2 separate regions of the Homo sapiens genome follow, and region 2 is linked to region 1. The links come from fine-mapping of genetic effects on gene expression. A gene starts in region 1. The other region holds a variant in brackets. All regions are shown on one strand. Distances are between the middles of the regions.

Region 1 (2,837 bases):
GCTGCTTTCTAAAGAGTGGTGGCATGCCGGACTCAGCCGAGCATGTGGCATGGATGGTGGGCTTCCATTTGCAGCGGATGTCTGCTCTCAGATGAAGGCACAGGCTGCCCCTGCCCTGCCCAGCATGCCCCCTGCCCTGCATGCCCCCTGCCCTGCATGTCACCTGTCCTACACATCCCCTGCCCTGCAGGCCCCATCTTGTCCTGCATGTCACCTGTCCTGCACATGCCCTGCCCTGCACTCCTCCTGCACTGCACTCCCCCTGCCCAGCACGTCAGCATGTGGGCGTGGTTCTGGCCCCAGCACGTGAGGGCAGGGGTGGGAGGGACTGTCCTGCTGCTGCTGCTGACGTCTGTCCCTTGTCCTTGTCCACCTGCTCTCCTCTCCCCCAGGCTGACCTGTGCTCGCCCTCGGATCTCCTCCAGGGCACTGCCCGGGGGCTGCGGACCGCGCTGGAGGCCGTGAAGCGGGTGGGGGGCAAGGCCCTACCGCCCCTCTGGCCCCCCTCTGGTCTGGGCGGCTTCGTCGTCTTCTACGTGGTCCTCATGCTGCTGCTCTATGTCACCTACACTCGGCTCCTGGGTTCCTAGGCCCCAAAATCGGCCCTCCCTCACCCCTTTCCCTTCCTCTCTATTTATAAGGTCCCTGCTCCACCCGACCCCACCTGCGGTGCCTTCAGCCCCAACCAAAGACACTAGTGCACCCCCTTCACAGACACTGACCTCAGAGGCCCCACTCTGGTGCCCCCAGACCCTGGGCCCCCAGCCTCTGGCCTCCCTCCAGTAGCCCCACGAGTCCCCACCTCTCAGTGCTGACGGTGCCTTCATGTCCCCGCCGGCCCTGCCCCTGCCCTCTGTACCCCGTGAGGGGTGGCAGGAGCTGGAGTCTCCCCCTTCCTCCTGTGCCCTCCCCTTCCCCCCCCAACAGCTGCTATGGGGGGGCTAAATTATCTCTATTTTGTAGAGAGGATCTATATTTGTAGGGGTTCGGGGCCCAGGCCGGGTCCCTATCTCTGTGTATAAACTGTACAGACCGTGGCCGCCCTGCCTGTGTGTGTGTGTGTGCGCGCGCGCGCGCGTCTGCTCCGCGTGTTGGTGGCTGTGGCCATGGCTCTGTGCCCACCAGCATCTCCCTCCTGAGATGCCGGCCTCTCATGCTCCCGGAGCGTCCGCCAACCCCCCGTGTCACCTCCCTTCTGTTATCGCTGACAGCTTTCTTGCGTCTCATTTGTCGCCGAGCCCCGAGCGCACGGTGATGCTCGGGTCTGCCCCCGACCCCCTGCCACAGGCCGGAAGCCGCAGGGGGCACCGTGGGGAAGCTAACCCGGCCCCTTCCCCCAGGAGTCACTGTGCCAGCCCCACCACATCCTGGAAGAGGAGGGGGCCCCGGGAAGGGGCCTCCCCTACATCGCTGCTGTCGTCCACGCCCTGCTGGACCGGCCTTAGGGGTGAAGGTGGGGGCACAGGGCCCACCCCGCCCGGGACCCCGGGAGCAGAAGACGCGCCTGGGCTCCGCGCTCTCAGAGAAGCACGTGGTGAGGGTGGCCTGGGCCTGGGCACCCTTGGCCTGCCGGCCTGGCTGCCTCTGGGGTCGAGGGTCTGGGTGGAAGGACCGCGGGTGTCGCAGGTGTCGTGTCAGCCGCAATAAACAGAAGCCAGAAGCCCTCTGGGTGGCCCTCAGGTGTAACTGTGTCTGAGAGCACGTGCGTCGCGGGGTTGTTGGGGGGGCCTCTGTTTCCGGAATTCACCGCCCAGTCGCCAGGGGGCGCCCGCGGGAGCCCGGCGGGGGCACGCGCCACGTGGCCGGGAGACGCACAGGGCGCCAGCGTCGCCGCGAGGCCTCTGGGGTGGGTTCGCCAGGAGGGCACGTTCGCGCCGCGCCGCGGAGGGAGGCTGAGAGGGCCGGGCCGGGCGGCGGGGACACGGCGGTACCGTCCTGCGCTCGGGAACGCGGAATGTTGCCCTGGTCGCCGCCGCGGTGGGGCGCGGGCCCGGAGGAGGCGCCCGAGGGACCAGGCCTTCCGGCGGGCAAGGACCAGGGCGAGCCCTGGAGCGCCGGAGCGGACGCCCCCAGGGAGCTGGGGACACCCCCATGGGACAGGTGAGGGGCTCGGACGGAGCCGTGGGGGGACAGCGACTGGGGGCCTCCATGCCTTCACCACGCGCTCTACGGAGGCTTCTCCATTGTCCCTGCTGGAGATTGGGTCCCTCGGTCTCCCTTGCACCAGGCACCCTTGGGCTCCAGGGGAGGGTGCGTGGGGGCGGTGTGGCTGCAGCCTCAGTCCCTGCCCCTCCAGCCCACAGCCCCCATCCCGTAGCCCTTCCTGGATCTGGAGAGAGCAGCTGCTGCTGCCCCACCACCTGCCAGGCCCGGCCACTGAGCAGCCCCCCGGAGCCCCAGGTAGGACAGGCCCTGCTGCCTCTACTACCCCTAAGAGCCTCTCACTGACTGTGAGCCTGTTATAATCCCCAAGCGTCCCCCCAGATCCCCGTTCCCCCCAGGTGGCCTGGGAGGTGGCCCCCTCGAGGATGACTCCACTAGCGCCCTGGGACCCCAAGTATGAAGCCAAAGCAGGACCTCGGCCGGTGTGGGTGAGTTGGGGGCAAACCTGTGGGACTGGCTGGGGTGCTCAGGGAGCTGTGCGGTGGCCTGAGGCTCCAGTGCTCTGTCCTCCTCACCCTAGGGGGCCAACTGTAGCTCAGGAGCCTCGTTCTCAGGCCGGACGCTGTGTCACCCCTCATTCTGGCCGCTGTATGAAGCAGCCTCGGGCAGGGGTCTCAGGCCCGTGGCCCCTGCCACAGGGCACTGGAATGGACAGCAGGCGCCCCCAGATGCAG
Region 2 (2,907 bases), 710 kb after region 1:
GAGAGCTAAAGGGCACAGCAAAGAAAAACTGAAATGAATAACAAGCTTATATACTCAAAATAACATTATGGTGAAATGAATTATAGCTTATGCATATAGAAATATGTAGTAACGTAAGATAGTAGATAGGTAATGGTTTACTTTGAAATGAAGTAAGCAGCAGTTCAAACTCAAATAAAATGTGATAGTATACTAGTTTTTAAAAATGTCTATGCATAGAAAAATGCCTACAAGACAGGCATTACATAGTTAATGAGGGTTGTTATAAGGTGTTTCTTAATCTATGGTTTGTAAAGTTTAACAGTTATCATTTTGTAATAAAAAACTTCCAAAATGAAAAGGCACATATTCAAATGATTGCCATGTGCATCGAGAGAGGCAGAATATACTTGAATCAGGCTGGTTGAGGGAAGGCTCCTTTCCCAGGGGCCTTGTACCTTTCAGGGCAGAACTTCTCAGGCTCTGTCCAGTACTTTGGGTCATGGTGAAGAGCATAGATTGGAACCATCACTGCTAACCCTTTGGGAATGAACACTCCATTGATTTCAATATCTTTCTTGCAGACTCTCGTAACTCTACTAACAACTGGGAATAATCTGAGCGTTTCATTCACCACCATGTCAAGGTACTCCATCTGTACCAGGGCATCGTAGGTGACAGGTGCCTGGGAAGAAAGAAACAGATTTGGATAAATTGAGATTGGGAATTAACTTTCAACTTAGTCCATGCAGTACTATTGAAGTGTTAGGAGCTCCAGAGAATAATTCATTCTGGTAAAAGATTGTTGCATTTATAAATTATTTTAATAATTCTCCATACCCAGTGATGTGCTCGATGGCCCATTGAGATGTGTGGAGGAGTTATGAATTTGGCACAATCACTTACACAGAGACTGAAATCCTTGACATTACCATTTCGTGTTTTTTCTTTCTTGGGAGAACAAACATGACTAATAGACGATGGCCATTTGAATCACCTAAAATATGCCAAAGCCAGTGTCACCTTTCCAAAGAGAGGCTATGCATCTGTACCAAGGAAAAAGAAAATGTAAAAAGCAAATCCTCTATTTCATACAAGCATTTAAAATGGAAAAGTCCTGTTTAGGCCAGGCATGGTGGCTCATGCCTATAATCCCAACACTTTGGGAGGCCAAGGTGGGTGGATCACTTGAGGTCAGGAGTTTGAGACCAGCCTGGCCAACATGGTGAAACCCTGTGTCTACTAAAACTATAAAAATTAGCCGGGCATAGTAGCGCACGCCTGTAATCCCAGCTACTCAGGTGGCTGAGGCACGAGAATCACTTGAACCCTGGAGGCGGAGGTAGCAGTGAGCCGAGATCACCCCACTGCAG[T/A]CCAGCCTGGGCGACGAAGCAAGACTCCATGCAAAAAAAAAATGTGGAGAGTAACACTATGTTATATAAAAACCCTATAAATAGTTTGGGGATAAACTAGTTCTTTTGTAACCCAAATATGACAAAAGAACTTTATAACTGGACAGGGCACACAATTTCAGTGCTACTGAGAGTTGTAAACAGGATAGGAACCCTCCGGGCAGCCCCATCCTGTCTTTCTCGAACAATTTCCCACTTGTTCCTTCAGGCCTGGACTATGAACTTAGATGAACATTCCTTTGTGTTCACCTCACTGCCAAACCAGGGCCAGCCCCAAGGCCAGATCTCGTTACACCATAAAGAATTCCAATTTGGGCAGAATTCTGGAAACAGTGTGGGTAATACGTGGCTAGCATTTGGTGTTATATTTGGAAGGTAATATTGTAGAGGTTAAATGTTTGGCCCAGGCGTCAGGCACCCTGGGTCCTAGCTTGGCTTCTTCACCACTAGCTACTTGACTGGAGCAGAGAGAGGTGTGAGGCAGAGCTGAGTCAGCCTGCCCAGCGCACCCAGGGCCAGGTTCCATCAGACCACTGCCAGACCACAGCGAGTCCAGCCAATATCAGCAGAGCTCACTATCCAGACTTGTGAGCAATAAATGATTGTTTTTAGTTGTCATTGAGATTTCTGGATATTTTTTACTTGGTGTTATGTTGCTAACAGACAACGGATGCAGCAGGACCAGCACTGTTTCACAAAGATCTTACACTTACGCAAGAAGCATCCACTACCTACGATTCTCCCTTTGTTTTTACTCTTTACAGCCTTTCTGCATAGTGTAAATGAAAGAACTGATGCTTACGCTTTTTGCAAAAATTGTCCTGGCAAGTGGTGAGGAGGCATTCTTGCTGAGGCTTCACCTTCTCCCTCCTTCTCCAGGGGATCATCCCCTTACCTTATTGGGTAAAACTGCGTCAATCTCCTCCTGCAGTTTCTGCTGGACATCAGGGTGAGTGGCCAGTTCATACATAATGAAGGGGAGAGTGGTGCTAGTTGTGTCATAGGCAGCAAAAATGATGATAATTGACTGGGCCACAAGCTCCAGATCAGACAGAGCTGAAAGGAGAGGAAATATATTTTAGGAAAAGTGGTTAGTGTAGAGCATCACAGTTTAGATGAAGCAAAATTCCAGTGAAGCTCCCAAATCCCTAAGAGCAAAAATAGAAAAGCAATTCAGAGTCACACTGCGGGTGGCTTCACTCTGATGTGTATCCTACAGAGCCAGAATAAGGCAAAGTCACTTTAATCCAGTTTTTTTTCCAGGGTCTACACGATTGTGGGCCATTCACTCCTCATCATACCATCCCCACCAGCTGCACAGCTGGGTAACTTTCAAAGAGAGCATTTCTGTCTAACATACTCAGTGTTATAGGGATGTCCCTTGGATAATCATAGAAGTTCTTTATCTATAAGTAAACGTGGAGTAACATTCTCCCCAGGGAAGATTTAAATTACTCTAGCTACAATATAGCTTGACAAACAATGAGACAGTTTGCAATACTAAGGCTTGATTTTA

The links. PIP is the estimated chance that this variant, and not a neighbour inherited with it, causes the effect.
Region 2: its variant is the best candidate, but not a certain one, in a credible set for the expression of SAP25 in whole blood (TOPMed, PIP 0.84).

Annotation. Positions count from the first base shown.
Region 1 is chr7:100,572,860-100,575,696 of GRCh38, reverse strand. It overlaps SAP25 (Sin3A associated protein 25), which reads left to right and starts at 1,797. Exons shown (of 6, transcript NM_001348680.2): 1 at 1,797-2,100; 2 at 2,297-2,400; 3 at 2,485-2,591; 4 at 2,684-2,837. The coding sequence starts at 1,955. It overlaps LRCH4 (leucine rich repeats and calponin homology domain containing 4), which reads left to right. Exons shown (of 18, transcript NM_002319.5): 18 at 393-1,686. The coding sequence ends at 590. RefSeq lists enhancers at 1-378, 379-933.
Region 2 is chr7:99,859,370-99,862,276 of GRCh38, reverse strand. CYP3A43 (cytochrome P450 family 3 subfamily A member 43) reads right to left here. Exons shown (of 13, transcript NM_057095.3): 10 at 2,287-2,447; 11 at 438-664. Among named protein-coding and RNA genes, the nearest start is that of OR2AE1, 16 kb to the left of the region's middle. RefSeq lists a silencer at 1,805-2,005. The variant T/A (reference allele first, on the strand shown) is at 1,353.